Linked DNA regions of Homo sapiens: region 2 is linked to region 1. Evidence: fine-mapped expression QTL. A gene starts in region 1. The other region holds a variant in brackets. All regions are shown on one strand. Distances are from middle to middle. Region 1 holds the start of TAPT1-AS1 (TAPT1 antisense RNA 1). Region 2 overlaps TAPT1-AS1 (TAPT1 antisense RNA 1).

The links. PIP is the estimated chance that this variant, and not a neighbour inherited with it, causes the effect.
Region 2: its variant is fine-mapped to the expression of TAPT1-AS1 in unexposed skin (GTEx, PIP 0.92).

The regions. Positions count from the first base shown.
Region 1 is chr4:16,223,550-16,228,922 of GRCh38, reverse strand. TAPT1-AS1 (TAPT1 antisense RNA 1) reads right to left here and starts at 2,260. Exons shown (of 3, transcript NR_027697.1): 1 at 1,746-2,260. TAPT1 (transmembrane anterior posterior transformation 1) reads left to right here and starts at 2,452. Exons shown (of 14, transcript NM_153365.3): 1 at 2,452-2,664. The coding sequence starts at 2,466. RefSeq lists an enhancer at 1,340-1,399 and silencers at 1,910-2,109, 2,170-2,239, 2,250-2,349, 2,360-2,409, 2,520-2,899.
Region 2 is chr4:16,244,727-16,250,099 of GRCh38, reverse strand. The region is part of intron 2 of TAPT1-AS1 (TAPT1 antisense RNA 1); the gene reads right to left. Among named protein-coding and RNA genes, the nearest start is that of TAPT1-AS1, 21 kb to the right of the region's middle. The variant A/C (reference allele first, on the strand shown) is at 2,302.

The DNA.
Region 1 (5,373 bases):
GAAATTGTGTAGTTTCACATGTCAGATATAATAAAGCAGCTTCAGTGAAAAGATTCAACCGACGAGAAGCTACAAGTTCCTCAACTTGCCCACATTCGCATTCCCACATTTCCAATTTGTTCCCCCGCTTCTTTAGGCAGTACCTAGCCTCGGCACGGCTGCTTCCTCTTCTTTTTTTTTTTTTTTTTGGCACGGCTGCTTCCTCTTCTTCTTTTCTTTTTTTTTTTTTTTTTTTTTTTTTTTTTTTTTTTTTTTTTTTTGGGACGGAGTCTCACTCTGTCGCCCGGGCTGGAGTCCAGCGACGCGATCTCGGTTCGGTTCACTGCAACCTCCGCCTCCCGGATTCAAGCCATTCTCCTGCCTCAGCCTCCCGAGTAGCTGGGAATACAGGCGCCCGCCATTACGCCCGGCTAATATTTGTATCTTTAGTAGACACGGGGTTTCACTATGTTGGCCAGGCTGGTCTGGAACTCCTGACCTCGTGATTCGCCCCCTTCGGCCTCCCAAACTGCTGGGATTACAGGCGTGAGCCACCGTGCCGGGCCCTCTCTCTTCTATTTAAAAGGATAGGCACAGCCTTTGGAACTGAATGTCTTTCCTCAGGCCTCATAATAGAAAATGAGGAAAGTCCATTCTGACAACTGGCTGCCTTAGGCAACAGAATTTGGGATTCCTACCCTTCCAGCTCCTGTTGAGTCAAAGGCAAAGGCAATAACCCAATAAATGTGGTGAGACAGTAAATGGAAACTGACATAAAAATAGCAATAAAAGCCTACTTCCTTCTTGACAATCAATACATAATGGAATGGGTATGATTTTACACCATAAAACATCAGAGAATAATAGAATATGGGCTGAAGAAAGCTCAGAAGCCACAACATTTTCCCCACCTTTTGATTTTCAAAACGATTCTTAAGATTTGTCGGGAGTATTTGTTTTCAATTGTTTCAGTGAGGCTCAGTTTTGACCACATGCAACCAAAATAGAGAATTTCATGGAGGATGGTCACAGGATTGGCTTAGAAAAATGTAATCCTGTGAGCTGTCCCCTTTCATAAATAATAAGGTTCCGACGGCTGCACCGAATGTTCCTCCTTTCAACGAGGTTGGGCCGAGGTTGGGCTCCCAGCTGCTGGGACATTTTTAGTCCATCTTGGACTCTCACCTCTGCCTCCTGCTCAGCTGTCAGAATGCCAGGCGGCTCTGCAGCCCAAAGCCCACTCCGTTTTAAACTTGCTCGTTTGCAATCACGTAACCCGCTACTGACGACAGAACCCTCAAGGCCCATTTATATGCGGTTCTCAAGTTTAGGTCTAGGGAAGTTTCCAGGAAGCTTAGTGTTCGGGGAGGAATTCGTTTTGCTTTTGCTAATCAAAGAGACACAAAAGCACAGCTGAGTCCCGAAGCTGGCACACGGGAAATCGAGGTACCACTGTCCCCTCACCGGAGCGCGCAACAATCACTTGGGGAGCGGGGAAAAGGTTTCCACCTTCCCCGAGCCTGGGGCACCTTCGCTCCCACCGCCCCAGCTGGTGGTGGTCTCGACACCACGCTCGTTGCGGGGTCACACGCCAGAGCTGGAAAGGGGAGGTCCAGCCCCAAGTAAAGCGACAAAGTAAGGACACAGTGGTGGCCAAGGGCTGTCTCCTAACCCCAGTCCCGAAAGACAGTGTGGAAAGTCCGCCGGCGCGCCAGCCCTTGAAACTCTGCCGGTCCGGCCGCGGCCCCTCCCCTGCGCGTCCCCACCTGTTGTGAAGCTGCCCAAGCTCCTTCTTGCCCAAATGCTTTGGAAACTGCCAAAGGACACTCAGAGGCCAGGGAATGTAACAGGCAAGCATAAATATGCAGAAGAGATGGAACCAAAATAGCGGGCAGGCAGGGCCGGCGCTCGTGGGGGTCGGTGATCTGGAGCCGGGCCCCCGCCGCCGCGGCCGCGCCAGCAGTGCCAAGACCTGGCGGGCGGCGCCGGCGCACTCCGGGCACCGAGTCTGCAAAAGAGGCCCTGAGCGGACCGCCGGACACCTCGCAGACTGCGGGCAGCGGTGGTGGCGGCCGCCTCTCCGGGGCTCCACGGCCGACCCGCCGCCCGCCGCCGCCATCCCCGGCCCGCTCCTGCCGGGTCCCCGACTCGAGCCCCGGAGGCGCCCGCTCTGCGGGACCGCGCAGCCCGGCTGCATGGAGCCCGGCGCGGTGCCCCGGCCGGCCGAGCCAGCCACGGCGCGAGAAACCGTCGCCCGCCACGGCGAGGGCAGGAAGAAGATGGCGGCTACCGTGGCGGCGGCGGCGGCGGCAGCGGCCTCACACGCGTCGCTGACGCCAATGGCTCGCGCCGGTCGGCGGGCCGCGGATGGCGGCGGCGGCGGCGGCGGCTCGGGCTCCGGCGAGGGGCGGGGCGAGGCGGGGAGGGGGCCGGCCGGAGGCAGAGGCTGGAGGGAGGCGGCGGGGACAGTTTGTTGTGCTCGGAACATGGCGGGCGTCGGCGACGCGGCCGCTCCGGGAGAAGGCGGCGGTGGCGGCGTGGACGGCCCGCAGCGGGACGGCCGCGGCGAGGCGGAGCAGCCGGGCGGCAGCGGCGGACAGGGGCCCCCGCCGGCGCCTCAGCTCACAGAGACGCTGGGCTTCTACGAGAGCGACCGGCGGCGGGAGAGGCGCCGGGGCCGCACAGGTGAGGCGGGCGGCGCTAGGCCGTGGCGGGCTCCGAGGGGCGGACTGGGGACCGAGGGCGGCGGGGGCGCCTTGGAACCCCGGCCCCCGAGCCGCGCGGCTGCCGTTGCCTCCCGGGGCTCCCCAGGCTGTGGGCGCGCGGAGCCGCCGAGGCTGCCGAGGCTCCGCGGCCGTTGACAGTTCCTCGGGCGGGTTGCGCGCGCAGCCCCGAGGCCCCCGCGGCCGCGCCAGGCCAGGTGTGCCCTAGAAGGGGTCTGCGGCCGGGAAAGTTCTGTCCGGGTCCTTGCATCGCCCTCGGAAGGTCTTAGGTTAGCGGGCATCTCCCACGTCTCGGAGCCCAAACGTGAGAAGCACACGGCTGATTTCTTAATTATATTCATGCCAAGGTGACTTTTTTTGTTCTGTATTTTAAGCAAACTTGAGCCATAGAAACCTGTTAACTTGCCCTGCAAGTAGATTTTTCACAGACAGCTGACGGTGTGGTAGTGACCATGAAGTTCAGTAGTTTTGCCCAGTACAGAAATATTTAACACTCCATAAAATGTTGCATCTGAACTTTTCCTGAACTGAAACTTATGCCAAAAAAATTACTAGATGAGAAAATGTGTACTTATGAATCCTACATTCAATGACCAGTTTTAAACGTATTGTTACAATGTTACAGTTTCTATAAGCTGTAGGTTTTTATTCTCATTTTAAAAGAATTTTTAAAACTTGCATTTGTATTCATATTGCAGTTACAGATTAGTTTTAAATGAAAAAAGGTTTTGAGATGGATGTCTTCTTGAATATAGAGTGAACCCAACGTTTTAATTCTCAAGCTGTAAACAGCAACTGAACCATAACTCCATTAAATTTCTTCCAACTAAAAAATTACTTCTGTTGTCCAAAAGGGGCTGTGTTAGCCGTTATTTCCTGAAGTTCATGCAAATAACTAAGTTGTGAGGCTGATTACATCATTGATTGTACTTGAGTACTGAAATTTTAAAACTACTTAAGGGGCATAAAGTTGATCAGATGCGATTCTAATTGATTTGCTGATTCCCAGAACTGGACGTAGGTTCTATTTGAAGCAGTCTATATTTTTGGAAAATTACAGACGGTCTTGTTTGGTCTTTTTCAATTAACCACTTAAAAATTCTCAACCATACTTTATTTGGTTTAGTTCTCAGTTAAACATTTGCTTTCAAGAGTATTTACTTTCTTCATTGGCAGGATCTCAGTAAGACAAAATAGCAAATCTCTCAACTGTCTGTTTACTTACTTAGACTTGAATATTAAAAGCACTCTGTTGTAAATAGAGATAGATGTAGCCAGGCTTCACTATACTTTCTTTAAAACATTTCTCAGTTGCAGGAAAGCCACCATTTTAAAAGCCTTTTTTTGTTGTTTGCGTGGAGAGGAAATGAAGTTGTTTGAAGCCTATTGATGAGCACAGATCTTGAGCTTGCAGTATCACTTAACACTTCTTCCCTGGCTTTTTCTGGGACTGGATACCTGGACTTCCATGGACTTCATTATACCACGTATCCATTCTTCACCAACATGGTTCACCATGTTTAAGGCTGGATTTTTTTTAACCCATAGTTGCAGGAAGTCATTATCAGGGAGATGCCTCCAGGTTTAGCTGTTGGGGTAGTCCTTGTTCTTTCCCCAGTTCCATTGATTTTGTGTGAGGAGATGTCAGTGGCCACTCCTGCTTTACCAAGTCACACTAGCCTTGGCGATCAGGATTTAGGTGAGAATTCCAAATTCCAGGAGTATTTCAGCTGGAGCCACTGGCCAGTGTTCTCTCTGAGCCTCCACATAAGCCCCTCCTTCTTTTCCCCTGGTGTCCCTGCTCTGCTAGTCACATAGCTCCTGCCACTGCTAGCACCCAGTCTGTAGCTCCGATAACCATATTTGTTAGAGGTTTCCCCACTAGAAACAATTATTTTAGTCCTTCTTCAATGCCCAGGCTGCTAAGTCTAGCGCTGCCCTCTTCCCCTGCTCTGTAATCCTTCCTTCCCCTCCTTTTAAGAATTTTTAAAAACGATTCCCTAGGAGCTGGCCTGGGTCAGAGGGCCTTTGAGTGGCAGCACCTGGAGTCATTTGGATAGCATTTCTCCCTGAATCAAACTAGTCCTCCACGGCTAGATGCTCGGACTTAAGGTATTACTTGTTGATTTTTTTATATTCTTGTGTGCCTCTGAGAGTCTAGCACCACTGCCCTTGAGATCTAGATCCCCCTGCAAGTTAAGGCAACCTTTGGCTTTTCTTTTTGAAAGTCATAATCTTAGTGTCTTGGTGGCTGAACCATCAGTCAGTTCCAAAGTTCCCTTTATCATTTCTCACAAGGAATTTAGGGCTCCTACAGGTAAGACATTTGTTGATCAGTCCCAACAGCCTAGAATTCCCTAAATGAATGTACATATTAGGTACTTATCCAAACTCTTTCCATCTGAATAAAATAAAACGTGGTGTCTGAGGTTCATTTTTTGTTTTATATCTCTCCTTGTTGATTTATATGTTTAGAAACTAGATATGTATATTTGTCTGTATGAATAGCTGTATATGCTCTATATTGTATTATACTAAACATGTGTCTCCATTAAGTCTAAGCTTTCTTTTCCTCATCACTTCGTTCTCAGAACTCCCGTTCTGACTTATATTTAGCCTGGCAATAGGCTGACGCATGTCTCAGATGCGAGTACTTACACCTTTTAACATA
Region 2 (5,373 bases), 21 kb before region 1:
TAAAAACAAGTAGACAGGAAGAGAATAATTGGCCACTTATTCTAATCCCTGCCATTTGTAATAATAATAAACAGCACAAATAGCAAACAAATTAATGACTGCTCCCCCTGAGCCAATCAATTACCAAGCTATGATCACTTTACCTCCTACTTCTTGAATCTTTTCCTTCACCACTGACTCATTCAAGCTGTCTTTTCCTCTTTCGTGGATCATGGCAATAGCTTCCCAGCCTCTATTCTTGTTTCTCTTAAAAATATCCTCCATATTGGTCACTAAAATGAGCTCTCTCATACAAAAACCAAGCCACTGCCTTGCTTAAAACCCATCAATGGCTCTGAAAGCATCATGGAATGTCTAACCTCCTTATTGCAACATGTAAACTTGATAGTTTCCTGACTCCTACCTGTAAATCTTCTGCACTCAGACTCATAGTGCACCAGACTGAGCTCTTTAACCTGGAGTTAATGCTGTTGTGTGGAGTTCAGATCACTGCCAGACTCTACTTCCCCTTGTGGTGAGTTGGCCTTTGGGACCTTACTGTCCTCTTCTCTCATGCACCTTGGTCAAGACCATCACAATCCACTGTGGCAGGGTTTCCTAATTTTAACATTTGGTAGTAGGAATTGGTGCCTCCCTTCCTTCTCTTTCAGAAGGGTTTTAGGATCCTTATTCAAATACATCCACTCCCTCCCCAAACCTCTGCAAACTGAGGAGAAGCCTTTGCTAAGACACAGGACTTTTTTTTTTTTTTACAGTTAATTGTATACCATTTTCCAAAGTCAAAATATGCCCCAATTCTTCACCTAAAGGATGCTGTTCCAACATGACTTTCTATGTTCACCTCTAAATAAAAAATTCCACCACGCCAGGTACACTGTTACACACATATAATTAGATGTGTATAAAATTCAACTCTCTATAAACACATACATATATCTTAAAGCTTTATATCTCAGCTTAGAAAATTAATTTTCTGACAACATCCTTTAATAATATTATTGCTGTTTTATAGAGGTCAATAGGACTAAGATCAGAGCCTTCTGTGACTTTAACCAGAACTCAAATGAATGAACCCTCTCAATTAACTGATTATTATTTCTTCTACACCAGACTTCTAAAAGAAAGAAAGAAAGAGGCTAATAAATACAGATGTGTCAGAGACCATTTTCAGGCTGTTGAAACAATGCCTTCATCTATAGACTTCATTCATAAATACACACACACAAATACCTACAGTTCTTAGGATCTATTGACATTCTGGAGGACAAAGTCTTCAAACTTGGCCCATTCAAGCCCTTTCACCATGTGCAACCCTACCTCTGGAAGATCTTACTCAGGCATGTAGAAAATGGTGACCGCAGAGATGGGAATTTCCATTGAAGAACAGATGGAACAAAACTTTAGGAGCAAAATGCTGGACCGTCTAACAGCAATAAAAATATCTACAGGCCCTACAGTCATACAATCAACTAGCAAGCTACAGATTTAAAGATCTTTAAAAAGATCTTTAAATATGTAAAAATATAAAAGTCAGTCCCACATATGTTTCCACGTATGTTTTCAACTCCTTCAGATTTCTGAGGTCATCCACTCTCAAAAGTCCAGGTTGAAGCAGACAAGAAACTACTTTAAAGACATTAGCAGCTCTAGAACCTCTGGAAGAGCCCAAGAATCACTGTTGAAAGCTATCTAGAGAGGTACTTGTAAATCAACTTATGCGAGGAGTTCCACCTATTTGGTTTGAGATTATTGGGAGAGATAAAGAAGGCTTTGGGTCCTTCTTCACATTACAGCACCTTTAAAAATAATAACAAGAAGAAGAAGAACCTTATAACCCAATGCTTAGTCCCTTTTTGCTTTACTCTCAGGCAACACAGAGCTCAATTCAGAACTCCTGGCAGTAGCTCCCCAATTAAAGGGTTGGACACATCCACTTCCCTTTTGGAATTACCTTGTTTAGATGGGTTAAATTTTAAAAGCCAAAATACAAATTCCAAATAAACAAATTAAATTAAATAGAAAGCATAATATCATCACAGTGAATTATTTCTAGACCAAGGTACAGACATAGTATGGCTACGGCTTATTAAATAGACTCTAGATTATCAAAAATCAAATGTCCAAGGCTTACTTTTGTCAGGCCCTCATGTCTTCTGAAGTCATCATCCCTTAAACATTCTACCAAGAGGGCCTGGGTCTCATACCATATATCTTGGAAAATTCTGTGGCTTCCTTCTCCCATCACAGACTCCCACATCCAGATACCACATGCACATACACTTGTCCCATCCCCATGTCAGC[A/C]TCTCGAAGGTACCTCAGTAAGATTGTGTTTTGAGCAGTCGGCATATCCTCAAATCTGTCTTCTTTCCCCACTTCTTGGCTCCAAGATGGTCGGTACGGTAGATGCCACTGGTGCTCCGTTCATCAGAGATTTGTCTCAACCAAAAAGGAGCTGCTTCATTCAGATCACACTTCCACCTCAACTCCTTCAGAGAAGACTGGGGCCAATGACTGACCGACATAAGGGTTTAAAGACCATACTCCTTACCCTAAGAGGAGTCCAACTCTGTCATGCAATTCATGCTCCAGAGGGCTCTCCATGGGATCTAGGCTAATTTGATCCCCAGCCAAAACAACATCCACACTTGGGCTTCTTTCCCACCCTGTTCTTCTCTCACTCCCCTTGTCCTGAGAGCACTCCCTCAATAAGTCACTTTTACAACAACCCCTGCCTCAGGCTCTACTTCCTGGGAACGCTTCCTGACACAGTTGGATTCAGTAGCTTTTTCCTGAAAGACAATAATAACTCAACATAGAACAGTAACAATTTAGATGTGAGTATCCATGCTACATTGCTAAAAGAAGGAGCATCAGAGTGAACAACTGCAGAGTCCACAGCTCTCTCCTCTATACAGGGTTTTGTAACCCAAGTGGAGAACATCATCTCTATTTTCATGTATCAGAGGCTTTTATTCTGTACTCTCTCTTGACTGCCTCCCAGGGAGGGAAGTGAGCACAAAAATAAGAAAGCAAATCCCTGGTGTAGAAACATTCTAGAGTTTGACACTTGTATTAAAAAGTTTCTGAAAGCTGGCCTGGCGCAGTGGCTCACATCTGTAATCCCAGCTCTTTGGGAGGCTGAGAAGGATGGATCACCTGAGGTCAGGAGTTCAAGACCAGCCTGGCCAATATGGTGAAACCCAGTCTCTACTAAAAATACAAAAATTAGCTGGGTGTGATGGTGCATGCCTGTAGTCCCGGCTACTCAAGAGGCTGAGGCAGGAGAATCACTTGAACCCGGGAAGCAGAGGTTGCAGTGAGCTGAGATCACGCCACTGTACTCCAGCCTGGGTGACAGAGCGAGACTCCATCTCAAAAAAACCAAAAAAACAAACAAACAAACAAACAAACAAACAAATGGTCTCTGAAAGCTGTTGGAAGAGACACATGGCATACAATCAGATAATTCAACTCATAGAGGCATGCTTCCCCAAACTCATTCCTCTCACTTTCTATCTCACCTACTCTTATCTACAAACTGAAAAATGTTTCCCTCAATTCCTTTAGAGATTGTGCTAAGAGCTGCCAGGAGGGTATTGTGATGCCATGAGGGAGGGTATAGGCAATGTGATCACAAGGAAGTCCGTGAGACCCGAGATGGGCAGGAAGGGCATAGCTTCCCCACCTACGAGGTGTGGATGCCATAAGGTTAATGTCCATTCGGGCTGCTACATGGTTCATTCTGGTGGGTGGGCTAAATTTGAGGGATATACAAATTGCCACAGGACTACAGAAAAAGAAACAACCAATACCACTTGGTGATGAGGCAGGGAAGGTCAGCAAAGTTTCCACTGAGTGCAGAATGTCTGATCTGTGCCTGAGAGGATAAGTAGATGGCCATGTAGAAAAGAAGAAAAAAGTCCCAGGCAAAGAGTCTGGACAGCACAGAGATGTGGATGCAGATGGCAGTGGTGGGACCAGGCAAGCACAGACTACCTGCTAGGGTGTGGCAGTATATAAGGCTGGGAAGACAGCCTGAAAGCCGCTTGAGAAGGTCCAGAGGATCATGGAAATTGTTCCAGCAGGAAGTGCTTTGTTCACATGTATTGTTAAGGCCAATCTGCACACTCTCTGGGGAATAGATTGGTGAGATGAGAAGGCAGCAAAACCAGTTAGTAGTCTTTTGAAATGATACCTAGTGCTTATTATATATTTATTACGTAGCCAGGCACTATCCCTAGCATTTTACACATTTTATCCTCACTCTGACTGCATGTGACAAATACTCTTTGGCATCTCAAATGACATGAGGAAACTGAGGCACAGAAGGTTAAGTAAGTTACCCAGAGAGTCAAAGCTAGTAAGTACAGGGCAATTAATTAAACCAAGGGGGATCTGGCTACTTTTCTGCCCCCCTAATGCTGAGGGACTATTCTAGGGCAGTAATGACTAAAATAGAAAACAGAGGACAAATGACATTTTGAGGGTGAATATAGGTAAGGCAAAGAGATAAATAAAAAGAACTGAGGTTTCCAGTTTCAGTGACCCAGGAGAAGGGAATTAGAATTAATAAGAGATAGAGCAGCAGCTTCAGGGTGAAAAGAATACCAAGGTTTGAGGCATGCTATGTTTGCAGAGATTGGGAGACATTCCGGTAAGTGTCTGAAATGTTTGTCTTACTCCCAGCCTTATCTTAAGATATCCTCTCCCACTGTGATGGTTAATACTGATTGTCAACTTGATTGGATTGAAGGATGCAAATTATTGATCCTGGTTGTGTCTGTGAGGGTGTTGCCAAAGGAGATTAACATTTGAGTCAATGTGCTGGGAAAGGCAGACCCACCCTTAACCTGGGTGGGCTCCATCTAATCAGCTGCCAGCATGGCTAGAATATAAAGCAGGAAAAAAATGTGAAAAGGCTAGACTGGCTTAACCTCCTGGCCTACATCTTTCTTTTCTGCTGGATGCTTCCTGCCCTTGAACATCAAACTCCAAGTTCTTCAGTGTTGGGACTCGGACTGGCTCTCCTTGCTCCTCAGCTTGTAGACAGCCTACTGTGGGACCTTTGTGATCGTGTTAGTTACTACTTAACAAGCTCCTATATATACCTCCTATTAGTTCTGTCCCTCTAAAGAACCCTGACTGATACGCCCATCTTCCATAACTTGGTATCATCACATATGCTCTCTCCTTTGTGCAATCAGAGTCTGTTCTTAAGGCAGTGTCCAGTATAGATGCCATTCACACATTAATGTCAGCAAATTCTCTCTTCCCAGGTGGGCCTGATATTAAATGAGAGCTTTACCTCTTGTTAACGAAATCAGTAAAAATTAACAGACTATGATGGAGAGGCATTTCTGGAGAATCTATCCT